Regions from separate parts of the Homo sapiens genome. Here region 2 is linked to region 1. Evidence: fine-mapped expression QTL. A gene starts in region 1. The other region holds a variant in brackets. All regions are shown on one strand. Distances are between the middles of the regions.

Region 1 (9,196 bases):
GCGCCGCCCCTGGCACCCAGATCCTGACTGCCGGGCGCTCCCTCCCCCAGGAGCACTGGTACACTTCCTACATCGACCTGCTGCAGCGCTTCCGCCTCTGGAACGTGTCCAACGAGGTGGTCAAGCTGAGCACCAGCCGCGCCGTCAGCTGCCTCAACCAGGCCTCCACCACCCTGCACGTCAACTGCAGCCACTGCAAGCGGCCCATGAGCAGCCGGGGCTGGGTCTGCGACAGGTGGGGCAGTGGGGTCGGGAGGTGGGGCAGGGGCCTGCAGGCAGCGCAGCAGCCCCCGCTGAGGCACCCTCCCTCCCGCCCGCCCCCAGGTGCCACCGCTGCGCCAGCATGTGTGCCGTCTGCCACCACGTAGTCAAGGGTCTCTTCGTGTGGTGCCAGGGCTGCAGCCACGGCGGCCACCTGCAGCACATCATGAAGTGGCTGGAAGGCAGCTCCCACTGTCCCGCAGGCTGCGGCCACCTCTGCGAGTACTCCTGACGGGGCATCTGCTGGGCTTGCCCGGGCGGCCGCGTGCAGAACCCCGCCTGGTCTTGTGCCCGAGACGGGCGGAGGCTGGAACTTGAGACCTCAATAAAGGAAGTAGAGCCGCTGTCGGCACTGCGTGTCACCCCATAGCGCGGCGGGCTCGCCGTAGGCCCGCGGGGCAGCTGGCGGGCGGGGGCTTTCGGCGGGGTTGTCGCCATGGTAACCGGCGGCGCCCATAGTCGCTCTCGGGGCGGCCTTCCCAGTGCCTCCCGTAGAGGCCTCTTCCGGGGCGGGCCAAAGGAGGTCACTTCCGGGGTCCGTCCCGGTTCCCGGCCGTTGCCACGACGACGAAGCTGCCGGCCAATGGCTGGCGGATGGGCCCAAGGTTCCCGGCGTGCAGCGCGGCTGCCTGAGGGCGGCAGGCTCATGGCGCCGGCGTCGCGGTTGCTCGCGCTCTGGGCGCTGGCGGCTGTGGCTCTACCCGGCTCCGGGGCGGAGGGCGACGGCGGGTGGTGAGCGGCCCGGGAGGGGCCGGGCGGTGGGGTCACGTGCGGCGGGCGGGGCGCGGGCTGACCCAGCTGTGCCCGCAGGCGCCCGGGCGGGCCGGGGGCCGTGGCGGAGGAGGAGCGCTGCACGGTGGAGCGTCGGGCCGACCTCACCTACGCGGAGTTCGTGCAGCAGTACGTGCGCCCCTGATCGCGGAGGTCGCGTCCTGTTCACCGGCCCGTCTGCCCCGACCGCCCAAGGCCGCCTTCCCCTGACCTCGCGCGCACGCGTGGGGCTGGGGCGGCGAGGCTGGCGGTCCGGCCTGGCCGCGACTCTGCCCTTCTTTCCAGGTACGCCTTCGTCAGGCCCGTCATCCTGCAGGGACTCACGGACAACTCGGTGAGCGCGTGCCCGTCCGTCCCCGGCCACTCTCGCCCGTGCTGGGCCCGGCCACTAAGTCCCCTCCCCGCCCCCGCAGAGGTTCCGGGCCCTGTGCTCCCGCGACAGGTTGCTGGCTTCGTTTGGGGACAGAGTGGTCCGGCTGAGCACCGCCAACACCTACTCCTACCACAAAGGTACGCGGCCTCACCCCTGGGGCCCGCCCATTTGCCAACACCGGGGCGGCTGGACCAGACGGTCCTGACCCGTCTCTTTCCTGCAGTGGACTTGCCCTTCCAGGAGTATGTGGAGCAGCTGCTGCACCCCCAGGACCCCACCTCCCTGGGCAATGGTGAGGCAGCCCTAGGCGGCGGTAGGGGGTGGGGACGCTTGGAGTCTCCAGGTGCCAGGATCCCTGTCCCCGCCGTCTCTGTTGGCAGACACCCTGTACTTCTTCGGGGACAACAACTTCACCGAGTGGGCCTCTCTCTTTCGGCACTACTCCCCACCCCCATTTGGCCTGCTGGGAACCGCTCCAGCTTACAGCTTTGGAATCGCAGGTGGGTGCTTCTTGGGACTGGGAAGGACTGAGGCTTCTGTCGGTGAGTACAAAATGGGTTGGTCACCAGGTGCTCATAACCCCACAGGAGCTGGCTCGGGGGTGCCCTTCCACTGGCATGGACCCGGGTACTCAGAAGTGATCTACGGTCGTAAGGTCAGCACGGGGTGGGGGTTGAGGCTTGGGACTCGCTGACCAAAACGGGCAAGGGTGACACTGCTGCTCATGCCCCCAGCGCTGGTTCCTTTACCCACCTGAGAAGACGCCAGAGTTCCACCCCAACAAGACCACGCTGGCCTGGCTCCGGGACACATACCCAGCCCTGCCACCGTCTGCACGGCCCCTGGAGTGTACCATCCGGGCTGGTGAGGTCAGTGGCTGGCAGGAGAGGGCCAGGCCAGGCTAGAGGCCCGCAGCTAATCTCTGCTGCACCCCCTTCCTCCACCAGGTGCTGTACTTCCCCGACCGCTGGTGGCATGCTACGCTCAACCTTGACACCAGCGTCTTCATCTCCACCTTCCTCGGCTAGCCAAAACAGCTGGCAGGACTGCCGGTCACACACCAGCACGTCCCACCTCGTGCTCACGGATTTTATTACACAGATAGTGGCGGCAATGGCCTCAGCCCAGCCCACCCTCACCTGCTTTTCCAGCCCACAAAGGGGGACGATCACGGCCCAGCAAAAGCGATGCTGAGAGGGGAAACAGTCCAGAGTCCAACAGCAGAACTTGGGGGAAGCGGTCGGGGTGGCCAGGAACATAAACTATGTATAGGGGCCGGGGGCTTCTGCCCAGGGCTCCCCTGGACCAGGACGCCAGGTAGGGCAGGGAACCTCAGTAGTCCTCCACCCAGCCATTCTCAGAGATGAATGCGTCAATAACCTCCTTCATAGCCAAGTTGGGGATGAGCTGTTCCTGGGTCAGGGGGCTCCGGGTCACGGGGTCAAAATGACCCACACGCTGCAGTGACAAGAAGGGCAGAGGGCAGTCATGGGGCCCAGGACCATGCCACTGGCCCTGCTCCCCCAGCCGCAGGCCTCACCTGCAGGTGCTCCTCGATGTCCTTGCGGTCGTAGGTGATGCCACTGGGCGTGATGCACGGCTCCCGCATCAGCTCAAAGCTGATCTTGCCACACAGGTAGTCGGGGATGTCTCGCTTCTGTGGCACAGGGGCACACGGTCAGAGGCTGAAAAGGGGCACTGCACGAGCACCTGCCAGCCATCGGCAGCAAGCGACACACACTCACCTTCCTCTTCTCATCCACCTGAGAAAAAAGCTCGTCCATGTCCGCCATGTACTTGTCCTGTGAAGAGTTGAGTGCTGTGCTTGGGGGAGACACCCCACCTCCCTCCTCCATGGGGCACAGACCCAACACAAGGCGGGGATGCTCCCACGCCACGTGCACACACACAGACCCACATGTGGGTGGGGGGCACCCTCACGTGCTTGGCCTCAATGCAGGCCTGCTGGGCCCGGACGTGGCTGTCGTCCTCATCACCCTCGTGGTTTCGCTGGCACTCTTCCAGCTCCCTGGGGGTTGACCAGGAGCCGGTCAGAGATGGACCTGGCCAGATGTCTGACCACACCCCAATCTCAGAGCTAACATCCACACTTCCCCACATTTCCTGCTTGCCAGTAAAGCCTTCGATAAACGCTTGTGTCGGGAGTCGGTGATTCAGAATTATCCCAAGACAGGGCGGCCTGGGGTGAGGGTCCCACCTCTCACGCTCCGCGGCAATGAGCCTGGAGAGGTAGGAGTGCAGCTCGCTCTCCTGGTGGATGCGCCGCTCCTCAATGCTGTTCCAGCGCTTCTTCTTCGCGATTCGAAGAGCGCTGGGGATGTCGTCCCCGAAGTTCAGCCGCTGCTCCTTGGCCAGGCTGTAAGCTGGGGAACGGGGGCTTCACGTCACTCTCTGGCCAGTCCACCCGCCTGGCCCCAGAGGCCCCACAACCGGGCAGCTTGTCAGCCAACCTCGCTGCAGATTGGCGATGGCCTCATCATAGCTCTCCATCTCCAGCTGGCACTGCCCCAGGAAGAAGTGCGCCTTCACAGACTGCCCGTCCAGCTCCAGGGCGCGCCGGCAGTCGGCCAGGGCCTGCTCGTGCTGCTGCATCTTCAGGTAGCACAAGGCCCGGTTGGTGTAATACACGGCCACCAGCGGGTTCCGGGTCTAGGGACCAAGGCCGGGCCAGCCGCATGAGGGCGTAGGCTCAGCGTGCCCACTCTGACCCACGGCCCGTCCCAGCTTCTGCGCTCTGGCTAGAATCAAGAAACTAGGTTTCTCAGTTGTCAAAGCCCCTGGGTCCAAGGATCTGTGCACAGTGGAGTACTGGCTGAGCCTATCCGCTTGATTCCACTTGGTTTTGTAAAGTTTTCCAAATCTTTGGAGAGTCCGGGCTTAGGACCTGGGGTCCTCAAGGGTCGAGGGCCCCTGCCCTCCCCCCACCCGGCCGGCCTCCATCCAGCATCGCACCCTCGTTCTCCGGCACCCGGCGCTGGGCTCGAGAACCACGGCTGGGCTTTGGGAGCCGAGGACACGCCCCGAAGAGGAGCCAGACCCTCGGTGGGGCCGGCCGGGCCCGGGCCCGGCCCTCCCCGGTGCCACCGCCGCCGCCCTCCCCGCGCGGGCGCACTCACGATCGCGCGGCCGTAGCAGGCCGCCGCCTCCGGGTACTTTCGGCCCACGAACAGACGATTGCCCTGCTCCTTGAGCTCCTGCGCGCTCGGGCTCTTCTCGGGGCTTCCGCCGCCAGCGCCCAGCCGTGCGCCGCCCTCCTTCTCCTCCTTGCCCTTCATGGCGCCGCGCGGCACGGCCTGGGCTCCGCTCCCAAGCTCCGCGCCTCGCGGCCCAGCGCCCGCAGCCGGAGCCCCGCAGCCCGAGCCCGCGATCCGCTCGGGCCCGGCCCAGCTCCGCCGCCGGAACTTCCGGCCGGGGGCGGGACCAGCGGGGACGCACGCGTGGGGGCGAGTGGGGCCGCGCGTGCGCCCAACCAGCCTGGACGGGGACACTGGGCCCGCGACGTCGGGGGCTGGGAGGAACGCTCCAGTTCCCTGTCCCCGCGCTCTTAAGGGTGGGCGTTCGCGTAGGCCCTGGCCTGCCCTGCTGAGGTCTCTTCGGAACCCGCCTCGGCGGCGGCCGCCACACACATTCGACTTTCCCAGTGAGATGCCTCACTTGCTTCGCTGAGGGCGCGCTCCCGCAACAGCCTGTCCCGACCACCTGGGGTTCCGCCCCTGTCCCAACGCGCAGAGACCCCTCCCCCGGCAGCCGGCCCCATCCAGAGGCCCCGCCCCCAGCAGCCGGCCCCATCCGCAGAGGCCCCGCCCCCAGCAGCCGCCCAATCCAGAGGCCCCGCCCCCAGCCGCCGGCCCCATCAGCAGAGGCCCCGCCCCCAGCCCCATCCGCAGAGGCCCCGCCCCCAGCAACCGCCCAATCCAGAGGCCCCGCCCCCAGCACCCGGCCCCATCAGCAGAGGCCCCGCCCCCAGCCGCCGCCTCCCGCCCCTGCGCGTGAACGTAGCGGCTTCCCACGCGCTGTGGGGTGTGAGGACCCCAGTCGCTGGGCTGCCATTCTGGAGCGCCACGAGAGGTGCTACGGGCGAGCGCGAGCCCCCGAGGGCGGCTGGAAGCCCCGGACTGTTGGTAGAGTGGAAGGGGATAGAGATCGGTGGGGCGAGCGTCCTCCGTGGCCAGTCCTCCCCTCACCGCCCTTCCTCAGGTATCGGGAAGAGTTGCCAGCGGCCATCAGGGGCAGAGCAGAGAAGCATGTGACAGGGAGCTGGAGCGGCTGCTGGCCTGGCAGCTTGACTGTGAAGGGCGGCCCGCCCCGAGGGCAGGGCCTCCGTAGCGCGGGTCTTCATTGGGGCGTGGCATCGGCGGGGCGGGTGTCTCCAGTGGGGGCGGGGCCTCCCTGGTGGGTCCAGCACCCCAGGCACCCTGACCTGGCCTCCCACAGAGGGGCGCTTCCGGCCACGTCTGCAGCAGCTGGTGGCCACCAATCCCCCTGAGCTGGTTGTGCACTGTTCGACCGCCACCTTCTGCCTCCTGCCAGATGTGGGGGCTGCAGTCACCGAGCTGTGTGCCCTCTGCGGTGTGGGCCCACCACAGCCTCGGGTGAGTTGGGTGGGCACGACTTGGGTACATAGGCGTTCTTGTCTGTGAAGCGGGCAGTCTGGGCCCTTGCGTGTCGCTAGGAGCAGGAACCATAGGGCCCTGGGCTGCTGGGAGCAGGGTCTCCCAGAGCTTGTCCTGATGGGGTGTGTCTGGCTGCTTCTCCTCGCTGTTCACAGCAGTCCTGGCAGCTGGAGCTCCAGAGATGGAGGCCTTCATGTCAGATGAGGCGGTGGCCACAGTGCCCGGCTGGCCGGCCCCACAGTACACCCTCAGGTACTACCTGCTGTACCTGGGCCAGGTTCAAGAGCGGGCCACAGCTCTGAGCCAAGGGGAATGAACTGTGTGTGGGCAGGTTGGGGTGGCCCGTGCCCCTGGGCCTGAGTCCGTGTGCCCCTCCCTAGCCAGTGCCTCAGGACAGTGGACTCCCTACCTAGTGGAGACAGCACTGTGGACCTGGGCTGTGGGGCAGAGGCTGTGCCCAGACCTGCTGCCCAACCTTGGCCCCAGCCTGGCCACCCACGAGGATGCTAGGCCAGCCAAGAAGCATGGAACCCAGGCCGAGTAAACTTGGCCATGGCCCAGGCCTGCTCACCTGCCACAGAACCTCAGGCCTCCGGGTCTCACTGGACGGCAGGGAGGCTGAAGAGGAGGCTGGCCACTACGGGAGCTCAATAAACACTTCCCAAACTCACGCCTGATCACACACCCGGCCTGACCACACACCTGGCCTGACCACACGCCCGGCCCCCAGCCATCCCGCGTGCCCCCAGCTCCCACAGACACAGCACCTGTGGCCCAGGAACAACTCCCACGCCTGACCCCAGGTGCAGAGATGCACAAGGAGGGAAGTCCAGGCCCCCGTGGTGGGGAGGGCCGTCGCGGTCTGTGCAGCAGGTGTGGGGGCCCTGACGAGTCTCCAGAGCCCGGGACAGCCCCCTGGTGCTGTGTAAAATATTTATTAATTATCCAAAAAGGCTCAGACCGCAAGTCCTGGGAGTGGGGGGTGGGTGGCTGGGACAGGGCCTCCTTTGAGGCCACCCACACCCAAGGGGCACAGCAGCCCTGAGACGTCCGTTCACAAAGGGCAGACGTGAAGGCCCCTGGTGGGCGGCCACCACATGCCCGAGCCCTGGCCTGTGCAGCCTCAGGTAGCCGGTCAGGGCGGTGGGGGGATGTGGGCGCCCAGCAGGTCGTAGGCGAAGACGTTCCAGAAGACGGCGAAGAGCAGGAAGGTGCCGTAGGCCAGCAGCACCACCCACCAGCCGCACTGGTCCCGCAGGCGCTCCTCGTAGCTCCGCAGGATGGTCAGGCCCATGCTCACCCCCACCACCGCGCCTGCCAGGTGCGCCATGAAGCTGGGCTGTGGGCCCGAGGCGGGCAGCGGCGGGGAGAAGCGCAGCCACACGGCCCGGCCCACCTCGGAGCTCACTGCAGAGGGACGCGGCAGGTGGGAGGTGCCCTGGCTGCAGGCTGAGAGGCCCCCCGGCCCTCCCCCCGGCCCCTACTCACTGCACACCAAGGCCAGCACCATCCTCAGCAACTTGTAGGGACATCTCATCCCAGCCCAGTTCTATGGGTGTGTGCAGACGAGAAGTGGTGAGGCTCACCTGGGGCCCCTCCCCACGCCCCCCACCGGGCAGGCCCGTTACCATGACAACGTTGGCCAGGTGTGCCGAGCACAGGGCGTAGACCCCGCCGGAGCCTCCCACCACCGGGGCCCGCATGTCGGTGATGGAGACGGTTAGGGAGCCTGTGTGAGCAAGCGGCGGGTGAGGGTGCAGCCGGCCAGGGCAGGGGGCGGGGGTGCGCGCCTGCCTCACCTGCCAGCACGCCTGCCAGGTAGAGCAGGCTGATGCGGAGCAGGCCGTGCACCATCTCCAGGGGCACCCCGATCATCAGCTGCAGGAGGGCGTTGAACCCCAGCTGCTCCAGCCTGGCCACAGGGAAGCAAACGGGTACGAAGGGTGGGGTCAGCCATCCGGCCCCACCCCCAGCCGTCACCTCAAGTTGCCGCACCTGCCTTGCGGCTAAGCCTTTCTGATGTAATGGCAGGTTGGGGCGGGGCTCACCGGGCAGCAGTGCTACTCACCCAACGTGCATGAACATGTAGGTGAGGAAGCGCCAGGCGCGGGCACGGTGCCCGGGGTGGTACACAAGGGGGCTCTTCATGTACTCGGGGTGGTAGGTCTGCAGCACCCACTTGTTGAGGCGGGCCCCGTAACACAGGAACACGATGATCTGGGGACACGAGTGTTAGGCTGGTCATGGCCAGGAGCGCGGGAGGCTCCCGGGGCAGCGGCCGGGGGGCCCACCTGGGCAAGAGTGACCGAGGCCATGAACACGGGGGGTGGGCAGCTGCGGTGACGGTAGAAGTACCAGCGGCGGTCCACCTCACAAGGCAGGATCTCGTAGGCCACGTAACGCACAAACCGCTTGTAGACACCTAGGCCTGGCTCATCCAGCGGCCCGTCCCGGGGCAGTGCCCGCTGTCCGTTAGCAATGGCCCGCTTGAAACTGCTGGAGCGCTTGCTGCTGATCTGGGGGCAGGGGCCTGAGTGTGGGCCACGGACCTCCCCATGGCACCCCTGCCTGTGAGGCTCACCCAGCTCCCCGCATCCACAAGCCCCCCACCCACCGCCGTGAGGAGCTGCCTGCCCGCCTCCTCTGGCCAGGACACCGTGCCCCTGCCGCCTGCCCACCGTGGCACTGACCAGGTCCACCAGCTCCTGGTAGCAGACCTGGCCCTGCTCGTTGCTCTGAGCCAGGGCCACCAGCATGTCCAGCTTGGCCGGGTCCAGGGGCAGCTCATGGCTGTGCACCAGGCCAGTGAAGGTGTCCGCACCGATGAAGCCTGTGTTCTCGGGGTCCAGCTGCTGCAGTGAGGAGCCGCCAGCCAAGGCCTGAGTGCGGGCCCGACCCCTGGACCAAAGGGCTGGGCCAGGCTGGCTGGGAGCATCAGGCTCAGGCTCCCAGCACTTTTGGGACAGGGGCCCCGTGCCTGTCTGTTCCCTGGGACCCTGCTTGATCCCAGGAGCTGGCAGGGCACTGGTGCCTGGGTCCCAGTCCTCCAGCTCCTCAGTTGTTCCCCCGTCTTCCACCCTACCCATCCTGGAAAGCGAGGGCCAAGGTCCAAGACCAGCCAGCTGCCCGCCCTCCCTCCCTCCCTCCCTCCCTCCCC
Region 2 (9,540 bases), 260 kb before region 1:
AGGGATGACAATTGAGACGAGATGGGGTGTTTAGGGCACTGGGGCCGTAGACAGGGCGAGACTTCAGCAAGCAGCAAGGAGGGGCCGTAGACAGGGCAAGCCTGGCAGGGGCAGTTTGAGGGAGAGGACGTCTCACATTGAAACAATACTTTAAAATAAGAGATTTGTCTTCATGGACTCCATGCCCGTCCATGGCAGAGTGGCAGGTGCAGGACGAGCCTCCCCACTATGAAACCGTCAGCAAGTGAAATACCAGAGGGCACAGGTGCCCAGGACTGCTGTCCCTGGAAAGGAGATACATACAGGGTGGCCTTGGTGGCCCCGGCCTTCTGCCTGAGCACCTTGTACACCACAGCTAGGGCACCCAGCAGAACACAAGGCGTCTCCAAGCTCAGGAGGCAGGGATCAGAGTTGAGGGCAGCTTGCATTTGTGCGGCAAGGCATTAGAGTAAAGGAGCTAACACAGACATCACCACAGAAAGCTACATGGATTCCACTAAGTCCTTGGGTTTGTTCTAAGCTGTGAACGTGGAGAGTGAGAGTCTTTGAGGGTTGGTGGAAAGTGGCGGGTAGAGTCTTTGAGGGTTGGTGGAAAGTGGCAGGTAGGGAGTGGTGACCTTAGTGGTGAGTCTGAGGGTCCCACAGTGCTGGCTGGGAGACAAGCCTCCCCATCAGCCGGTCCAGAGGTGACTTGCATAAGACCCTAGGCACTCAGCGCATGCCCCCAGAAAGGCCACATCTTAGGAGGAGGGTTCCTCTCGCCCTAGAAAAGGGCTGTTCTAGACTGACCCTAACTGAGCTTTTGGAAAGACCAAGTTCATCCTCCAGTAGCTCAGCTGCTTACCAGACAGACTCATTCACTCTCCAAAGGAAGCAGACAAAATTAACTTCTCAATGATGTTATGATCTTTCATAATGTCAACTAGAATCAGAAACTACTACACAAGTAAAGAAACAGGAAAATAGGATCCCTATACAGGAAACAAAAAAGGGTCACAAGAAACTGACCATGATAGCCAAGATAGCACACGTAGAAAAGAGGATTTGAGGCAGCCATTACAGATACACACCAGGACTCAAGGGAAGTATTCCTCTTTTTTTTTTTTTTTTTTTTTTTTGAGACAGAGTCTCATTCTGTCCCCCAGGCTGGAGTGCAGTGGTGAGATCTTGGCTCACTTCAACCTCCACCTCGCAGGTTCAAACAATTTTCCTGCTTCAGCCTCCCAAGTAGCTGGGATTATAGGTGTGCACCACCACACCCAGCTAATTTTTGTATTTTTAATAGAAATGGTGTTTCACCATTGTTGGCCAGGCTGGTCTCAAACTCCTGACCTCAGGTGATCCGCCCGCCTCGGCCTCCCAAAGTGCTGGGATTACAGGCATGAACTACCACACCCAGCCTAGTAGTGGTCTTAATGAATGAACACATGGGAAATTTAGCAGAGACTCTGAATCTTTTTTTTTTTTTTTTTTTGAGATGGAGTCTCGCTCTGTCGCCCAGGCTGGAGTGCAGTGGCGCGATCTCGGCTCACTGCAAGCTCCACCTCCTGGGTTCACTCCATTCTCCTGCCTCAGCCTCCTGAGTAGCTGGGACTACAGGCGCCCACCACCACACCTGGCTAATTTTTTGTATTTTTAGTAGAGACAGGGTTTCACCGTGTTAGCCAGGATGGTCTCGATCTCCTGACCTTGTGATCCACCCGCCTCGGCCTCCCAAAGTGCTGGGATTACAGGCGTGAGCCACCGTGCCCGGCCGAGACTCTGAATCTTTAAAGAAGAGTCAATTGGACATTTTAGAACTGAAAAGTACAGTATCTGTACTGAAAAATCTGTTGCCTGGGCTTAATAACAGGTTGGAGGTGGGTAGAAGATAGCCTCAATGAATTTTAAGAGAAATCTGTAGAAATTATCCAAGCTAAAGAACAAACAGAAAAAAGATTGAAACGAGCAGAGCTTCAGTGACATGTGGGATAGCACCAGGTGGTCTAACATACCTGTGATTGGAGCCCCACAGAGAGAGGACACACAGAATGGGGCATATAGCACCAGGTGGTCTAACATACATGTGATTGGAGCCCCACAGAGAGAGGACACAGAGAATGGGGCATATAGCACTAGGTGGTCTAACATACATGTGATTGGAGCCCCACAGAGAGAGGACACAGAGAATGGGGCAAATAGCACCAGGTGGTCTAACATACATGTGATTGGAGCCCCACAGAGAGAGGACGCAGAGAATGGGGCACGTAGCACCCGGTGGGCTAACATATGTGTGATTGGAGCCCCACAGAGAGAGGACACAGAGAATGAGGCATATAGCACCAGGTGGTCTAACATACTTGTGATTGGAGCCCCACAGAGAGAGGACACAGAAAATGGGGCATAAAAAGTATTTAAAGAAATAATAGCTGAATGATATAAATGTGTAAATCCAAGAAGCTCAGCACACTGTAAGCAGTAAAAGTAAGAGAAAATGTTATCTGGGCACATTGTAGTCAAACTACCGAATACCAAAGACAAAGATAGCACCTGGAAGGAAAAAGACGTTACACTCAAAGAATAAAGATTCAAATATGTCTGGCTTCTTATAACCACTGGAGGCCAGAGGATGATGGACTGGCATCTTTAGAGTTCTAAAGAAAAACGATTGTCAACCCAGAGTTCTATCCAGTGACAATATCCTTCAAAAACAAAAGCAAAATAAAGACATTTTCAGATAACGGAAAACTGAGAGAAGGCTTTGCCAGCAGACACACTATAGAAATGTTAAAGGAATATCTTCAGGCTGAAGGAATTATTGCTTGGCAGAAAGAATTATTGCTAGGCAGAAAGTCATCTATAGAAAGGAGTAAAATCCACTGGACATGGTAAAGGTAGGGAAATATGAAATGTTCTCTATTTCTTTTTTTCTTAATTTAATACAGACACAACTAAGGCAAAAACTGTAATACTGTAATATACACAACATTAGCACAAAGGAGGGAGGGGATCCTTCCTGAATCTGTAACATCACTGGCTCTCTAAATTCTACGTGAAGCGAGAAAATATTAACCCCAGGTCTGTTGTGAGTAGGTGAGATACCTGCTGTTAGCCCTAGGGCAATCACTAAAAGTAGTGCAAAGATATGTAGCTGAGGAGCCCATGGAGTGATTGAAATGGAGTGTTAAACATGTTTGCTTCCAGTAAGAAGGCAGGAACAGAGGAACAGGACGAAAAACCAGGTGAGACTCTGAAAACAAAAAATAACCAATGAGCCATATCAATGATTACATTAAATGTAAGTGACTAAATCTTCCAATTAAAAGACAGAGATTTAGAATCAGGCCAGGCATGGTGGCTCATACCTGTAATGCCAGCACTTTGGGAGGCCAAGGCAGGCAGATCACCTGAGGTCATCAGGAGTTCAAGACCAGCCTGGCCAACATGGTGAAGCCTCATCTTTACTAAAAATACAAAAATTACCCGGGCATAGTTGCACGTGCCTGTAGTCCCAGCCACTCAGGAGGCTGAGGCAGGGAGAGTCACTTGAACCCAGGAGGCAGAGGTTGCAGTGAGCCACTGCACTCCAGCCTGGGCAACAGAGTGAGACTCTGTCGCAAAAAAAAAAATCAATTTAAAAAAATCAGGTATCAAGTATATGCAGTTTTCAAGAGCTATGCTTTAAATATAAAGGTACAAATGAGTTGAAAGAGGAAGGATAAAGATAAAGAAGGATAGACTACATAAATATACTGGAAAGCTAGAGTGGCTGTATTAACTTTAGACAAAGTAAAGTTCAGGACACGGAGTATTATCAGAGGTGTACAGAGACATTTTGTGGTAATAAAAGACTTAATTGATCATAAAGACATAAAGGCACCACATACTGAACCTCACAATATATGAAGCAAAAATTGCAGAACTCCAGGAAGAAATACACAAATTCACAATTCTGTTTGGAGATTTTAACATCAATCACTCTTTCAATAATTGAAAGAACAACTAAACAAACAAAAAAAAGAAGACATAGAAGATCAGAACGGCACTATCGGCCACTTTGACATAATTGATGAATCCCTTTACCCTGCAGTACTTCCGGGTGTTTTTCCTAAGAAGAGTGTTCTTTTCATTCCTGCAGGGATCAGCTGCAGTAGGTTTAACACGGTTGCGGTTCTGAGACTGCGTCTCCCACTCATTTTCCAGTTTGTCATCTGACCTAAGGATAATCCTTATAGCATTTACTTTCCAGAATAGGGTTCGGCGTTGGGTTTAGTTGTCTGGTCTCTTCTGGGACATCCATCTTTTATGACACTGATATTTTAAAGTTATGCATTCCTTTAAATAAATGGTGTTCCTCTTTGGGGTTTCCCAGCTGTTTCCTGTGGTCGTCGTCCCAGGCAGGACGCTGCCTGCGGGGAGGACCCTCCCACACCACCTGCCTTGTCCTCCATGATATGCTGGTCCCCGGTGGGTGAGCCTGTGTTTCTAGGTGGTCAACAGGGAATGGAGATATGTCCAAACCAGTTCCCATGGCCCTGTGAGAGATGCATGGCGGCATTCTGCAGCCATGACCGTGACCACGTGGGGAGGCTTCAAACAAGAAACACTTACTCTTCCACAGTTCTTGAGGCCAGAAGTCCGAAATCAGGGTGTCGGCAGGGCCAGTTCCACCCAAGTCTCTATGGGAGGAGGGACCTTCCCTTCCCTCCGAGTCTCTGCGGGAAGGTCCTTCCTCGTCTCTTCCAGCCCCTGGAGGCTCCGGGCACCCCCGGCTTGTGGACGTATCACTCGGGTCCCTGCCGCTTTGCCTCCTCCCCTTTGGTCTGTCTCAGGGTTCCTGGTACGTCTCTCTGATGAGGACGTCTGTGATCACATAGTCCAGGACGCCCTCACCTCGAGATCCTTAACTTAATTACCTCCACAGAGACCCCTTTTCCAAATAAGACAGGGTGCAGGCATTAAGATGTGGACAGGTCTTTCTGGGGGCCTCCTTTTAGCCCACTGCCCAGGGCTTCTCTCTAATAAAGGTGGGCTCAGACTGCGCACCCTGTTTTATTCCCTGTCTGGTCACTTAATTCTTAAACAATTTTCATTACCTGGTCCTTATGACAATATTGGAAATAACCAAAGTTTTTTTACTTCCCGTCAAATCACAAGTATCTTCCCATCTCGCCGACGTTGTCTTACAGCAGCTTTGGTCAGCATGTACTGCTCCTGACAGAGGCAGAGGCCGCGTGGAGAGTGGGCCGGGTCGCCGCAGACACAGCAGGGTCGAGGCCTGGCGCCGGCAGTCTCAGCGACGCACTGGTCATTGCCCCAGATGCCACGC[G/A]CCCGTCTGGACCTCCGCTGCTCGGCGGCACGTGTGGTGGCCACAGGGTGGTCTGTTACGTGTGTTTGCTCATTGCGCCAAGCCCACCGGCCGGCACGTTGGTTGTTCCTGGTTTTTATTGCTGGAAGTGGCACCTCGGTGGCCAGCTTTGTGGCGCAGGGATATTTTGCAGGGCTGTGACTTACTGTGTGAACTAGCTCCTGAGGTGGGCTGCTGGGTCAGGGTGTGCGTGGTGGACGGGTGCCGCCAGCCTGCACCCAGGGTTCGTGCTCACGGCGGGGACAGCGTGCTGTTGTCCTGTTCCCTACTCAGAACATCCCATTTCCGAAAAACCACTGAGAGTTTTTAAGTGAAAATAATGTTATTTAAATACGCATTTCTCTGCCAAGTTATTTTTCTTGGTTTTGCTCTTGTTGTTTCTCTGGGGATTTGTGTTTTGCCTTTGCCGTTCCCCTTTGGTGTGAATGTTCTTTGTTTATCCATCTGTAAGAGGCCCTGCTGTCCGGGAAGGTAAATGCACGTGGAAGGTGTAACCCCTTGGCCGCATCCCATTCTGTATGCACGGACTTTGCTTTCTGCACAGGTTTCCTCTTGTGTCCAGTCTGCCCGTCTTTCCCCATTTTCATTGCTGCCTTAGGTGCTTTGTCGAAACGGCCTCCAGCACTTTTTCCTTACACTTTTAAGGGCTATTTACATATTTACATCCTGTTTTAAATTGCTTACCTGTAGTGAATGGACTATGTACTCTGAGGTCGGTTTTCACACAGTAATGGGAGCACTGTCCATCCATCCCTTCGTCTGTCCATCCATCCATCTGTCCGTGGGAGCCACACATGCACTTGGTGCTCCCTGCGCTGCCTGGCTTCAACAGCCCGGGTCCTCCCAACAGCCCTGGGACCTGGACTTCCTCTTGGCAGCTCCAGTAAGAGGCAACAGGCGACAGATGTTTGCAAAGACACCTCTTGTTATTACCATTTTATTTTCTCTGTTGTATGAACTTAAACATTAGGGTGGCAGCAGTCATGTCTTCAGTGAACCAGTTGCCTCACTGGCACTGCCGAACTGGTATGTGTGGTCCAGCCCCACCCCTGCCATCCCCACGAGCTGCCATCCAGCCCCATCCCTGCTGTCCCCGCGAGCCGCCGTCCAGCCCCATCCCTGCCTTCCCTGTGAGCCGCCGTCCAGCCCCGTCCCTGCTGTCCCCGCGAGCCACCATCCAGCCCTGTCCCTGCAAGCCACTGTCCAGCCCCATCCCTGCCGTCCCCACAAGCCACTGTTCAGTCTAGCGCTTCCCTGTGCCAGGCAGGCCATGGCCCTGCACAGCGGGACCCAGCGTCCCGGCCTTGCCAGTGCTAGCTGGCACCCCGTTCCGTGATTGAGTGGGAGGCACAGTGGTCTGGTGGGTGCTCCACCCCCTCTCCTGCGAGGCGGGTAGACATGGAAGCCCCCCAGCTGCTCTCACCCAAAGGCGCCCCTCTTTTTTTGTGGTATTTTTTTTTTGGTAACTTCTGTAAATAAATCCACGTTTGGCCTTCACCACATGACAAAGACTTCAGTCTTGATGGTGGGATCAGCTGCAGACACAAGTCAGGAACCTGGGCGTGGTTCAGGATCAGCTGCAGACACAAGTCAGGAACCTGGGCGTGGTTCAGGAGGACATGGTTCATGATTAAGTCCCTACTACACACTCTAGATAGGCCTCCAGCAAAGTTCTTTGCACTAGGCCAGAAACTGGAAGATTTCTTACAAATTTACAACTAGCCTGCCCCAAAATGGGGAGCATAAAATTTAACAAATATTTATACATGAAGTCTTTTTACAGATGATAAGTAGCTGGAGCCAAATGTGTTTTTAAATCAAAAGCTTCCTATAGAAATGGGAGCCCCCATCCAGTGCAAGGGGCAGGGCCTGTGCTGGGGCCGTGTGCAGCATCTGCAGGGCATCGGGGGTCTTGCTGCCTCCCTAGCACAGAGACCCCAACGACCTGTCAGTCAACAGAGACCCCAGCAGCCTGTCGGTCAACAGAGACCCCAGCAGCCTGTCAGTCAACAGAGACCCCAGCGGCCTGTCAGTCAGGTGTGGAGGCTCACAGGGGAGCAGGTTCCTGACCTCACTAGGCAGTCAGAGGGAGCGTGTTAACCCCGACCATCCAAAAGCAAAATCTACGTCCCACTGTCCAGGAAAGGACTTGAGTTTCTTTAAAGAACAAAACAGCAGAACAAACCCAGAAGAACTCCACGGAGTCGGTATCTTCTAACGTGAGTTCCAACTGTTGAAAATGTAATAAAAGCTATGAAAGTAATAAGACGTTTTAGTTTTTCGTGTCATTACCTTAGCTAAAACCTGCTATTTAAAGATTCTTTTATCAGGCAGCCTTGAAATGCAAAATTCAAAGCAGGTGAAGTGACAGAAGAATGCATTTTCGAACACCCTCAGCCGATGTGAAGGCAGCTGCGTCTGGACTCACCCCTTCTCTGCACAACGCTTGTATTTTGGTGGCCCTGAGTCACTGAAACTCTTCCAGGCCTTGGTCCCTTCTGATAAAAGCGTGAGGCTGCGTCTTTTTAGCTAGGATCTCCCGCCCTGTCGCCCAGGCTGGAGTGCAATAGTAGCGCGATCTTGGCTCACTGCAGCCTGGAACTCCTGGGCTTAAGCCATCTTCCAGCCTCGGCCCCAAGGTCACTGGGACTACAGGTGTGCGCCACCACACCTGGCTAATAAAAGAGCAAAGCTTTTATTCTCTATGGATTTGAAAAATCAGCTCCTTTTCCTTTCTCCGTTCAACTAAGGTTATATATTGGGAACATTTTGGGGGTAAATTTATTTCTAGCATTAGCCAATGTGTACAGCGGTTGCTTGGAAGATTTTGGTCACGGAAAGGGGGGCAGGGAGTGTATCCTGCAGCCCACAGAGTGCCCTCTCTCCCTCCCAGCCTCCTTCCTCAGCCCACGGGGTGCCCTCTCTCCCTCCCAGCCAGCTTCCTCAGCCCACGGGGTACCCCCTCTCTCCCAGCCTCCTTCCTGAGCCCACAGGGTGCCTCCTCTCTCTCCCAGCCACCTTCCTCAGCCCACGGGGTGCCCTCCCTCCCTCCCAGCCTCCTTCCTCAGCCCACGGGGTGCCCTCTCTCCCTCCCAGCCTGCTTCCTCAGCCCACGGGGTACCCCCTCTCTCCTAGCCTCCTTCCTCAGCCCACACGGTGCCCCCTCTCTCTCCCAGCCACCTTCCTCAGCCCACGGGGTGCCCTCTCTCCCTCCCAGCCTCCTTCCTCAGCCCACGGGGTGCCCTCTCTCCCTCCCAGCCTCCTTCCTCAGCCCACGGGGTACCCCCTCTCTCCCAGCCTCCTTCCTCAGCCCACACGGTGCCCCCTCTGTCTCCCAGCCACCTTCCTCAGCCCACGGGGTGCCCTCTCTCCCTCCCAGCCTCCTTCCTCAGCCAACGGGGTGCCCTCTCTCCCTCCCAGCCTTCTTCCTCTGGAGTGAAAAGCAAATCTAGACTTCGTACTCTTTTACCTATAAATAGTGTGGACCTCTACCGGGTAAGGGATGATTTAAAAAGATATCAGAGCCACTGGGGCAGCCACACACCTGATGCGGTTGAAGAATGAGCCCTCCAGTACTCTGTCCCCGCCCACCTCCCCCACGGCTCAGATGTCGTTTGTCATGGCCTTTGCTGTGCTTTTATCGTAATGTCAAGGTGGAAAATCACAGACATATTCAAAGGTCGGACGATGTAGGGAGCCCTGGGATGGGCAGTGGGCCCTGAGGGCCGTCCCACACCCTGTAGCTTTTCATTCCTGTGGATTTCATTAGGCAACGTTGCTCCTTAATGTCTTTAGTGAGATAGAATTCACATACCATAAAACTGCATTTAAAGCAAGCTTGTCCACACGCGGCTCAGGATGGCTTTGAATGAGACCCAACACAAATTCATAAACTTTCTTAAAACATTATGAGTTTTTTTTTTTTTAGCTCATCAGCTGTCACTAGTGTTAGTATATTTTATGTGTGGCCCAAGACAATTTTTCTTCTTCCATTGTGGCCCACGGAAGCCACAAGATTGGACAACCGACAACCCTGACATAAAGTGTACAAGTCAGCGTACATATTCATGGACTCTGAAGCCATCAGCACCACGTTGAAAACATTCTGGCTGGGGCAGTTCACACCTGTCATCCCAGCACTTAGGGAGGTGGAGGCAGGAGGATCGCCTGAGTCTAGGAGTTTGAGACCAGCC

Alleles and levels. Alleles are on the strand shown, and positions count from the first base shown. SD is a standard deviation of normalised expression in the study named.
In carriers of allele A in region 2, the expression in monocytes after LPS of the gene that starts at base 4,817 in region 1 tends to be lower than with G alone (large effect, 1.4 SD a copy in Quach 2016).

What was found. PIP is the estimated chance that this variant, and not a neighbour inherited with it, causes the effect.
Region 2: its variant is fine-mapped to the expression of STUB1 in monocytes after LPS (Quach 2016, PIP 0.95).

What each region holds. Positions count from the first base shown.
Region 1 is chr16:676,031-685,226 of GRCh38, reverse strand. STUB1 (STIP1 homology and U-box containing protein 1) reads right to left here and starts at 4,817. Exons shown (of 7, transcript NM_005861.4): 1 at 4,543-4,817; 2 at 3,877-4,075; 3 at 3,624-3,789; 4 at 3,347-3,434; 5 at 3,151-3,207; 6 at 2,946-3,062; 7 at 2,426-2,863. The coding sequence starts at 4,701. The coding sequence ends at 2,738. It overlaps RHBDL1 (rhomboid like 1), which reads right to left. Exons shown (of 8, transcript NM_001278720.2): 2 at 8,730-8,891; 3 at 8,331-8,555; 4 at 8,108-8,256; 5 at 7,839-7,951; 6 at 7,668-7,768; 7 at 7,528-7,588; 8 at 6,959-7,446. The coding sequence ends at 7,175. JMJD8 (jumonji domain containing 8) reads left to right here and starts at 893. Exons shown (of 9, transcript NM_001005920.4): 1 at 893-993; 2 at 1,072-1,161; 3 at 1,318-1,366; 4 at 1,446-1,542; 5 at 1,629-1,697; 6 at 1,786-1,905; 7 at 1,993-2,060; 8 at 2,140-2,274; 9 at 2,353-3,557. The coding sequence starts at 908. The coding sequence ends at 2,433. WDR24 (WD repeat domain 24) reads left to right here. Exons shown (of 9, transcript NM_032259.4): 8 at 51-235; 9 at 325-605. The coding sequence ends at 493. It also overlaps the pseudogene STUB1-DT. RefSeq lists enhancers at 464-513, 2,863-3,450, 3,451-4,038, 4,009-4,058 and silencers at 914-1,223, 4,739-4,948, 5,229-5,338.
Region 2 is chr16:935,305-944,844 of GRCh38, reverse strand. All of the region lies in intron 2 of LMF1 (lipase maturation factor 1), which reads left to right. Among named protein-coding and RNA genes, the nearest start is that of LMF1-AS1, 19 kb to the right of the region's middle. The variant G/A (reference allele first, on the strand shown) is at 5,309.